2 separate regions of the Homo sapiens genome follow, and region 1 is linked to region 2. The links come from fine-mapping of genetic effects on gene expression. Tissue or cell type: whole blood. Region 2 holds a variant in brackets; the other region holds the start of a gene. Each region is shown on its reference strand, or each on the opposite one.

Region 1 (5,365 bases), not on the chromosome of region 2:
TCACATGAGTTCTTTGAGGGGCAATGGGGGAAGGGGTTTAAAGGCCCAAACAGGCCTTTGACTTTTCACTCTGCAATAAGAATGGTAATAACATTCCATAAATATTAGTGTATTTTCTTCTCCTGGAAGTGGGAACCAGGGCAGCAAAGGGTGACATGGGCATTGTGCCTGGAGCTGCTGGAGGAGGCAGTGCACCTCAGACTAGGGACTTGACCTCGCTGCCCCAAGTTTTTCATCCGTGAATTGGCAGTTATAGCTAATAACTAGCTCATAGCGTTATTATGAAGATTAATGGGACGATCCAAGTAAAGCACTTTGCACAGTGCCTGGCACAAAGTTAATGCTCAATAAGTGTAAGCTGCTGTAATCCTCAGGGGCACCCCACACATTCCATCTCACCCTGATCACCCTAACCCAAGGTGTCTGGTTTGGCTTAATGCCCAAAACCAGCCCCAGCAGGTGAGCTGGAAGCCTGAAAGTCTAAACACTTAGGCCTTACAGGGATAAGTGTAAGGCCACCCAGACATGCTACACAAGCCCAGATGACCAGTCCTCTGAGTGCCCACACAGTTAGGCTAGAGAGAGGTAGACCCAACGACCTAGGGCTGGGAGACTGTCAGGGTTCTAACCCTGGCTGTGTCATTTATCAACTCTGTTACCTTGAGCAAGTCTCTCTCTCCCTCCTCCTCCCCCTCCTCCTCTTCTCCCTCTCCCTCCCCTCCTCCTCCTCCTCCACCTCTTCTTCTTCTTAACTTCTTCCTTCTTCTTCCTTCCTCCTTTCTCCTTCCTCCTTTCTCTCTTCTCCTTCTTCTCCTTCTCCTCCTTCTTCTTCTTTCTTCTTTCTTCTTCTTCCTCTCTCCCTCTCTCTCAGCTCTGGTTCCTCCTTTGTGAAATGGAGCATAAGGAGCCCCCACCCTGGCTGTTTCACAGGGCTCCTAGGAGACTCAAAATCAGACAACAAACATTTACATGTTGCAGGTGTCACACACTGTTCTAGATCCTCTACACATACTCACTCATTGAATCCTCATTACGACCCTCTGATGTTATTATTAGCATCCGCATTTTACAGATGAGAGAACTGAGTCAGAGAAGGGTTAATAACTTGCCTTTAAAAATCACACAGACAGGCCAGGTGTGGTGGCTCTCGCCTGTAATCCCAGCACTTTGAGAGGCTGAGGCGGGCAGATCACCTGAAGTCAAGAGTTCGAGATGAGCCTGGCCAACATGGTGAAACCCAATCTCTACTAAAAATACAAACATTAGCGGGGCGTGGTGGCGCATGCCTGTGGTCCCAACTACTTGGGAGGCTGAGGCAGGATAATTGCTTGAACTTGGTCGGCATAGGTTGCAGTGAGCAGAGATAGCTCCAATGCACTCCAGCCTGGGCGACAGAGGGAGACTCCGTCACAAAAAAAAAAAAAAAAAAAAAAAAATTCACACAGACCAAAATTAAAAAAAAAATTTAATCACAGGGACAGCAAGTGGCAGACCTGGTTCCCAAGTGGGTGGGTGATTTCAATTGTGGCCTTATCCTGTCTCAAAGTGAACTGACTCCTAAAATGTCCTTCTTTTTAGTAGACAGCTGGACCGCCGCCTGGAGAGGAAGCCTTGAACGGCTGGGGGAGGGGATTACTTTACAGCCAGGATCCAGCCAAGGCTGGGGATGAGATGGGAGTAGGATCTCCCGACTCCTTAGGGTCACTCCTCAGGGTCACTCCTCGTCCTGGGGACCAGATTCCAGGCTTCACAGGACCGGAGAAGGAGGAGCGCGTCCTCCCTTCCCAAAGCGCCAGCTCATTTAGATACAGGTGCCTGGGGCTTTGGCTCTCGTCGCTGATGAGGGGTAGCATCTTTCTGATGCTGGTGACTGTGAGTGCGTCTCGAGGGATGGGGGTGCTGAGCCTACCGCTTCGCTCGTTAGGGAACAAATTGCTGTTTTGGCCCCGGCGGCTCCTCTGGGCGCGGGCGGCAGCCGCGCTCGCTGGCAAATCGTGGGAGGGAGGAGGAGCGGCGCTGGCAGGCAAGTCCGGGGGACCGTCGCAGCGCGGGAGGCCAAGAAAAGACGGCCGCCCCGGGCCCGGCTCCGCCCCGCCGGGAAGGGGCTCCCTGCAGCCGCCCCAGGGCAGCACCCCGCGCGGCGCCGCGCGGAGCTCTCCAGGACGAGCTGCGTGAGGCGCGGGGCTCGGCCTTCCTCGCTCTCCTGGTGCCAGGACCCGCACGCACAAGGTTCGGAAGTTTTTTCGCAGTGTCTGACCCCTGCCGGTCCCCTGTATTTACCACCTGACCCTCTAGCGCGCTTAGGAGAGGCAAGAGGTGACAAATGCCAGAGGGAAATGGAGGGGCAGGACAAGGGGTCTGGCGCTCCCCTCCCCACCACACACCCTTTCCGCCCACGGGGTCACACGGAGGACGTCTGACCCTTACTCCTAGGGCTACCCACCCTCTGGTTTCCAGGCAGCTCCTGCTTGCGGAGACACCTCATAGGAGCAGCTGGATCCATTTTCCAGAGCGTCAAGTTGAGGATGAGAAAGTCTCGAGGGCCGGGCAGCTGTGCGCGCAGAACCCCCGCCCCATCTGCTTTTAGATTTCCCGGGTGCGGCTGGAGCCCCTCTAGAGCGCCGGCCTCCGCTGGCCGCAGGGCCTTCACCTGCGCCTGTCGCCCTGTCCCCTTGCCCACTGCATTTTCCTCGGGGAGAGCATCTTCCACAGCATGCGTCCCCTGCCCCCCACGCCCCGAGCCCCCCTCCCATTCCGCCGGGGGAGGAGAGGCTGCTAGGAGGCTCTCGGAGAGCCCCCGGGCTGCAGAGAAAGACGCCTCCCCTCTGCGGCTGAGGCCGAGTGAGCCAAAGGGGGCCGGCCGCTCGCCAGTGGTTCTCCGAGGTACGGGCGGGGAGGCCCGCGGGGTGGGATCAGGGCGGCCGCCACCTCCCCGCCCCCGCCGAGGTCCCGAAGGGAGGGGAGCCCTCCGCGGGAGGCCTGTCCCTTTAAGGAGGCGGCCCTGGCTGGGTGTGCCCCGTCTCCATGGTTACCCCGGTGCAGGCGGCGGGCGCGGGAGGGAGGGAGGGAGGCTGCAGCTTCTCCCCGACAGACGGAGGGAGCTGCCGAGAGCCGGCGCCGAGCGAAGCCGAGCGGAAGCCCACCCGCAGCCGACACGCGAGCCGCTGCCGCGGCGGGAGGTGCTGAGAGCGCGGCGGCCGCGGGGCCTGGAGCCCGGGATTTGTGGGCGGCGAGGGCGCGAGGGGCCGCGCGCCATGCTCCGGGCCCCGACGGCGCGGACGCCCCCTCGCGCGCCAGCGTCCGGCGCGACCCCGGATCCCGGTCTGCGCATTGCCCCCCGACGGCTGCGCTAGGGAGCGCGGGGCCCGGCGGGGGGCGGCCGAGCTGGGCGCCCTCCCCCGGCGCGGAGTCCCCGCACCCCGGAGGGATGGGGCGGGCAGCCGCGGGCGCCTAAGATGCCGGCCATGCGGGGCCTCCTGGCGCCGCAGAACACCTTCCTGGACACCATCGCTACGCGCTTCGACGGCACGCGTGAGTCCGACCCTCGCCCACTTGCACCCGGGCCGCCGGACCCTCGCCAGGGCTCCCGCCTTCCCCGAACCCCCAGCAGCCCAGCTTGGCGCCAGCCTATTCTCACCCTCTCCTCCCTACCCGCCCCTCTTGAGGCTGGGGCCATCGTCTCCTGCTAGGCGCTGTTTCCCCGAAGGTTCGAAGGTTCGGGGTCAACACTGCTTCAGGCGAGGCAACAGGGCCAGAAGTCCCTGGGTGTGGGTCCTGGGATGCTCTCTGTTAGCCGGGTCTCGAACCCGAACCTAGTCAGTCTGACCCATCCCACCCCTGCGTCTGGCGCTGTCGCAGCAACTACCCTCGGACTGGTGGGGTAAGGCGAGGCGGGTGAACAGTGCTCAGGGACAGCTGAGAGGGCTCAAAACACAGATTTAGAAAAGAGATTTGCAAACGGAGATAAGAGTAGGCGGCACTCGGGAGAGCACCGTGTGTCCAAGCCCCGTGTCTCATAGCCTGAACCCCCTAGACTTGGGGAGGCCATCTAGCCCCAAGAAGATGGTTTGGGGACTCCCATCAGGACTGGGGAAGTTTGGAGAAGGCGCCCCGAGCTCTGGATCCCCGGTTCTGGGGGCTCTGAGCACAGGGGAAGTGATGAAAGCCCCTCCCTCCTCCTCTCCCTCACATCCCCCGTGGGGCTTCCCAGCTCTCTGCCTAGGTCCTCCTTGGTCTCCGGTTCCTGATAGGGGGTGGGAGCCCAGCCCTGCGCTCTCCCCACTCCGGGCTCCTCCATCTGCTTTGCCAGTGTGCTTGGCTCCTGCAGCCTGCTGATTCAGTGCCCCCCACTCCCCAATACATTCCTGGCTCCTGGCTCCCGTGCTCAGTCACCATTCTTACACCCCCATTCTTGATCACATTCACTAATTCCTGAGCCAGGTCAGGCAGCTAGGGCTAAAACACAGACAGCAGGATGTATGGTGGTCTGGGGTTGCCTCCAGTCTAGGTGTGTCTCAGTGGGAGAAGCCAGACAGCCAACCTGGGTACCTGGCTAGTGGGTGAGCCTGGCAGAAGTAGAGGTGGGGCTGAGGCTGGCCCAGAGCTGGCAGGGCAGTCCTCATTAGGGATTCCCCAATCCCAGCCCTTACCCCACATTGCTCAGGACACCCTCCAGAAGGCACAGTGCCCGCACAGCGCTTCATTCACCGACCTCAGTTCACATGTGCTGATCCTTGAATGTACTCACACCTGCTGCAGGGCACTGACAAACAGGTGACACACACTGATTGCTATTCATAAACAGCCCTGCCTTAACACACGCAGGATTCCTGGGGTTTGGAAAACCCACTCTTTGGTTGCAGGCATTTGAGAAAGGAGGGGTGGTAGGCCTCCTGCCCCTTCACCCCACGCCTCCTCTGAGAAGTGCTCTCTTGCAGACAGTAACTTCGTGCTGGGCAACGCCCAGGTGGCGGGGCTCTTCCCCGTGGTCTACTGCTCTGATGGCTTCTGTGACCTCACGGGCTTCTCCCGGGCTGAGGTCATGCAGCGGGGCTGTGCCTGCTCCTTCCTTTATGGGCCAGACACCAGTGAGCTCGTCCGCCAACAGATCCGCAAGGCCCTGGACGAGCACAAGGAGTTCAAGGCTGAGCTGATCCTGTACCGGAAGAGCGGTGAGGGGCCACCTGGCCAGCCTGCCTCACCTTTGCAGTCTCACCCAGCCTGGCACCAGCCCCATCCACTGTCCCTCCTCCTTTCTGTTGCCATCTTCTCCATCTCCCCATGTCATCCCATCTTCCCATCCCCCCATCCAACCCCTCTTGCTCCATCCCACCTCTTGCCCCGGCTCCCCATCTCTACCTGCCTC
Region 2 (5,365 bases):
GAATAGGCTGAGGATCAACGTGGGGACTGACTCTCATCAAAAGAAAAACCAGTAAGGACCAGGTCAGCCATTCTCCAGACACTTCAGGCAAGGAGCCCAAACCAAAGGAGGAAAAACTACGCATTCAGTTGTTCAACTGCCTCAGCATGGTTAATGTATTCACTTGAAGTAGAAATGTTTTGAGACTTAATGACCATGATTAATATCCCTCTGCACCCCCTCCTTCCTACCACTTGGGAATCTTTGGGGAATAGTTAGGTTCAGAGCCACCTACAAGAAAGGTCCCAGGTTGTCATTCTTCATACCTTAGAGGAATTCTCCTGATGCTAACACATTCCCAGGTGTTTCACAGAATTCCACTAAAGCTGGGGGGTAAGATTCATCCTGTCGTCTTCTCATCCTACCCACAACCTCAACCAGTATGTACCATGCTCCTGCCAGGAGATACAACTGCACCAACACCAGGTACCTACCCACTCCTCGTCCTCTGCCCCATCCCCCTGCTCTCGGATCTCCGCTGCAGCCCCCTTCGAACACTTTTGGGCCATGATGTTGTCTGTCCAGGATGCCCCTGTCTTTCCATCACCAGTGAAATTACACTTGGTCACTGTTCCAGCCTCAAGTTTGGCCAATGAATCTGAAAGAAGAGATGAAATTGAATGTCCTCTGTCCCTGTGGCAGAAACATAGTGAGGGCTGGGCCCATTATGGTGGGGTCCCCTAGGCCTGGGTTAAACCACTGTTTTCTCCAGGCATAGATGTGGTCAATGAGCCCCTGGGTGGGACCCCCAAGGTATGGTGGGAGAGTCGCTCACAGGAACCATGGGATTGGGTGGCACCCGGGGATCCAGGCTGTCGAGCCCAATGGCCCTAGGGCACTTGTGCAGGGATTTAGGAGTAAATCTCAAGGGCTTGGTCGTGTCCCCATGGAGGCCAGCCCTTGCCTGCTCCCATGAGCTCTAGGCAGAAGGGAGGCCAAGAGCCCCCATGGGCCACACAGGAACAGTGGGCCACAGTGAGGGTTGCATTGCTCACCCAGGAAGGGACCATCGCCCCGAGTCTTCAGCCGTACCCCGGCCCCCAGCTCGAGTTCCATCACCTCCATCTCTGACTCGGGCATCCAGAACGCCACTGTGTGGTCGGGGGTGAGGCTCTCTGTCAGCGCGAGCAGCTCTGGCTTGTTGACCAGCCCCTTCAGCGCCTCGGGCGTGAGCCTGTCAGTGTCCCCCTTGGCTTCCACCTCTGCAGGCACAGAGCGCAGGAGGGTCATTATCACTGTGGCAGCAAGAACTTCCGGAGGGCCTCTCAGGAGCCAGGTGAGGGCTGAGTGTTTCCAAGCTCAGTCACCCGGAGGCTGGGACTCAGTGCCCATTCTGCGAGTCCTCATCAAGGAACTCCACAGCAGAGGCGGACAGGCATGAGCTGGGGACAGGCAGCCTGGTGCAGATCTGGGCTCCACAATAACTTAGGCAAGTTACATCACCTCTCCGTACCCGAAAAATAGGATAAAATCAGAACCTACCTGACAGGACTGAAATGACGTATAAAGGAAATAAAGCATGTAGCACAGCGCCTGGCACATGGACCCCTAGGTAAGCATTCATATGTTTTCACTATTCCCATCTTACAGATGAGAAAACTAAGGCTTAGAGAAGTTCAGTAATTAGCTCAAGGTCACACAGTAGTAGAGGAGGCAGGATTCAAAGCACCCCAACACATTCCATCTTGAGACCCCGGTGGCCAGGCAGGGTTCTCTCCAGGCTCTCAGGGTCTACCTGGCTGGGGTGAGGTCTACTGGAACCAGGAGTAAACTCTGGTAGTCCCCCTCCTCTCTCCTGGCCCTGGCAGAGTTCATGGACTAAGGGAGGAGTCCTAAATCCAGGTGCTGGATTAGGGAAGGGGCACTCCCGGACTGTGAAGTGGGCCCAGCCTCCCAGGACTGTGTGTTCACAAGGCCACACCCCAGCACAGCAACCCCGGAGCTTGTCCCACAGGCTGCCTGCGCCACGCCAAGCCCAGGTGGCCGCACTTCACTGGAGAACATCCCAGCCAACCCATGAACACATTTCATGGAGCACATTCCATTCATGGTGTACAACCTCAGCCAACCTCTGCCAGGGGTGCCTTCTGGGACTGCACAGGTGGCTGCTCCCACAGGACTGCTCCATCCTCCTCAGCCCTCTGCCCTGACACCCTCTAGACAGAGCATCTCACTTTCTTTGCAAGGTAACAGAAGCCATCAAGTGAGACCTCTCACTTCCCTGACCACTCACCTGTCAACCCTTTTTTTTTTTTTTTGAGATGGAGTTTCGCTTTGTCACCCAGGCTGGAGTGCAGTGGTGCAATCTCGGCTCATTGCAACCTCTACCTCCTGAGTTTGAGCAATTCTCCTGCCTTAGCCT[T/C]CCGAGTAGATGGGATTACAGGCGTGTGCCACTACACCCAGCTAATTTTTGTATTTTTGTTAGAAACGGGGTTTCACCATGTTGGCCAGGCTGGTCTCAAACTCCTGACCTCAGGTAATCCACCCATCTCAGCCTCCCAAAGTGCTGGGATTACAGGCGTGAGCCACCACGCCCAGCCATCAACTCACGTCTGACCACACAAAACATCTCCTCTTTCCTTCTGTCTCAAAGGATAGGAGGCCTCTCCTCCTGCCTCAAGCCAGCTCCTCCATCTGGGCTGCAGATAGACCCCTTCCCCCCTCCTGAGGACCTGTCTCTCTCTCCCCACTCCTTGACCTTTCCTCAAGGCCTTCCTGCGTTCTGGCTTTGACACCTACTGCTCCAGACCCCATGTACCCCCACCAGAGTCACCGGTGAGCTCTTAACCTGCAAACTTCTTGGATGCTCCATATCTCAGACCTAACTAACCCGTGGGCAGTGCCTGACCCCACTGCTAGCTCCTCACGCCTGTTCCCCTTGGCTTCGCGGGGCTTTAGAGACATGACACCTTCCCATCCCTCGGACCTTTCAGTGGCTCCATCTCCTGCTCTTCCTTCTCCATCCATCTCCTATTGTTGCTATTTCCCAAGACAACCTCCTGGGCCCACTTCTTTTCTCCTCCTGGGTAACTGGGTCCACTTCCATAGCTTCAATACTCTCGATGTGCTGCAGCCCAGTTCTCTCCCCAAGTTCTAGAACTATCCTCCAAGGCCTCAGTAGACCTCTACCCAGCAGTGCTCCTGGCAACTCAAACTCAGTGTGTTCCAAACAGACCTCCTCCCCACAAACCTCTCGCCCCTCCATTTCCCCAAGTCTGGCACCGATGCCCAACCCCTGGCATCATCACGACTCCTTCCTCTTCCTCCCCAGTAGCCAAGCCAACACTGAGGCCACTGTGCCTCCTCTAGCTTGAGCTCCTCCAGTCTCTGCACCCCCACTGACAGGTCCTTAATCCTGGCCTTCTTATCTCTGTCCTAGGTGACCCTAACAGCTTTTTCACAGGCATCGCTGGGCTCCAGGCTATTTGCCTCCCTGGAGATTTTCAAACACAGACCTGATCACATCACCTGCCTACTTAAAACCTCACTACAGGGCTGCCCTGCACCCTTGGTTAGAGTTGAGCTCCTCAGTGCCCGCCCCTCCTGCTGCCTGCCCTGCATGGCTTCTCATACCTGGGTCAGGAACTCTTCAACTGCCAGGCATTGGGCACCCTCTGCCTCTCTGAAACACCCTGCAAATCCCTGGCACCTGGCTGACCTCTGCTTATCTTTCAGGATTCAGTCCTGTTATTCCCTGCTCTAGGGCATCCCCAGCCATGCCTGCCTGGGCTCAGCACCCTTCACGGGATCCAGGCCCGGGCCTGTCCATCTCCTCTACTGGACTAAGAACATTTCAAGTATACGACTGGGTCTTGTTCATCCCTGGACCTCTCAGCATGTGGCACAAGGGCTGGCACATGATATAGATGGTCCCTAATGTTCAGAGAGTCAATGAGTAACTGAAGGTATGAATGAATAAAGTGATAGAGTCCCACTCAACCTCAAAACCTTCTCACCCAGGGGCAGACAGCAAAGAGGCTCAACCAGAGACAAAATCAGGAAGAAGAAGAAGATCATGGAGGGCTTGCTATGGTTGGAATGTATCCCCCAAAATTCGTACGTTAACAGGAGGCTGAGGCAGGAGAATCGCTTGAGCCTGGGAGGCGGAGGTTGCAGTGATCCAAGATTGAGCCACTGCACTCCAGCCTGGGGGACAGAGCCAGACTTTGTCTCAGACAGCAAAAGAAAAGGAAAAAAAAAAAGTCAAACTCAGCTGCCTTTCCTCCACTGATGGAGTATGGACATAATGCCTAGAAGTAAAGTGGCCATCAAAAAGTATTATTATTATTATTACTATTTTTTTTTGAAACGGAGTCTCACTCTGTTGCCTAGGCTGGAGTGCAGTGGTGCAATCTCGGCTCACTGCACCTCCACCTCCTGGGTTCAAGTGATTCTCCTGCCTCAGCCTCCCAGATAGCTGGTATTACAGGTGCACGCCACCATGCCCAGCTAATTTTTGTATTTTTAGTAGAGCTGGGGTTTCACCATGTTCGCCAGGCCGGTCTCGAACTCCTGACCTCAAGTGATCCACCCACCTCGGCCTCCCAAAGTGCTGGGATTATAGGCATGAGCCACCACACTCACCCTAAAATTTTTTTAAAAAAGAAAAAAAATCATATGTTGAAACTTAATCACCAATGTGATAGTATTAAGAGGTGGGACCTTTAGGAGGTGAGTCATGGCATACGAGTGGGATGAGTGCTTTACAGAAGAGATTGAAGAGAGAGCCGCCTTGCCTTCTGCCATGTGAGGACTCAGCAAGAAGGCACCGTCTCTGAAGCGCAAAGCAAGCCCTCACCGGACACTGAATCTGCTGGCACCCTGACCTTGGACTTCCCCGCCTCCAGAACTGTAAGCCAGACATTTCTGTTCTTAAGTAGGTGCAGTGGCACACACCTACAGTCCCAGCTATTCTGGAGGCTGAGGAGGGAGGATCACTTGAAGACTATAGTGTGCTATGATTGCACCTGAGAATAACCACTACACTCCAGCCTGGGCTACATAGCAAAACCCAGCCACTAAAAATGCACAAAGAAACAAAAATTTTAAAAATTAAAAATAAAATAAACAAACACATTTCTATTGTTAATAAATCACCCAGCCTAAGGTATTTTGTTATATAGCACGCACGGACTGAGACCCCAGAACCAAAAGAGGATTTGGGCAGTAAAACAGAGACCGCCTAGGGCCTGGCCTGGGCTCTGCACAAAGGCAGTTAGAGCCCAAAGCCAGGTTTGTGGGTGATTCTGCCAGATACAGGAAATGGCAGGAGGTGGGAAGGCCAGCCTGGCCCCTGGAATGGAGGGGAGGGAACGGGGATCCTCTG

The links. PIP is the estimated chance that this variant, and not a neighbour inherited with it, causes the effect. A credible set is the group of variants that fine-mapping cannot tell apart.
Region 1: KCNH3 starts here. The variant in region 2 is the best candidate, but not a certain one, in a credible set for the expression of KCNH3 in whole blood (TOPMed, PIP 0.51).

What each region holds. Positions count from the first base shown.
Region 1 is chr12:49,535,962-49,541,326 of GRCh38, forward strand. It overlaps KCNH3 (potassium voltage-gated channel subfamily H member 3), which reads left to right and starts at 3,069. Exons shown (of 15, transcript NM_012284.3): 1 at 3,069-3,531; 2 at 4,938-5,171. The coding sequence starts at 3,456. RefSeq lists silencers at 2,030-2,149, 2,880-3,059 and enhancers at 2,377-3,188, 3,189-3,998, 4,643-4,692.
Region 2 is chr15:89,902,743-89,908,107 of GRCh38, forward strand. It overlaps ARPIN-AP3S2 (ARPIN-AP3S2 readthrough), which reads right to left. Exons shown (of 10, transcript NM_001199058.2): 4 at 1,035-1,241; 5 at 474-637. ARPIN (actin related protein 2/3 complex inhibitor) reads right to left here. Exons shown (of 6, transcript NM_182616.4): 4 at 1,035-1,241; 5 at 474-637. Among named protein-coding and RNA genes, the nearest start is that of ARPIN, 7.5 kb to the right of the region's middle. The variant T/C (reference allele first, on the strand shown) is at 2,402.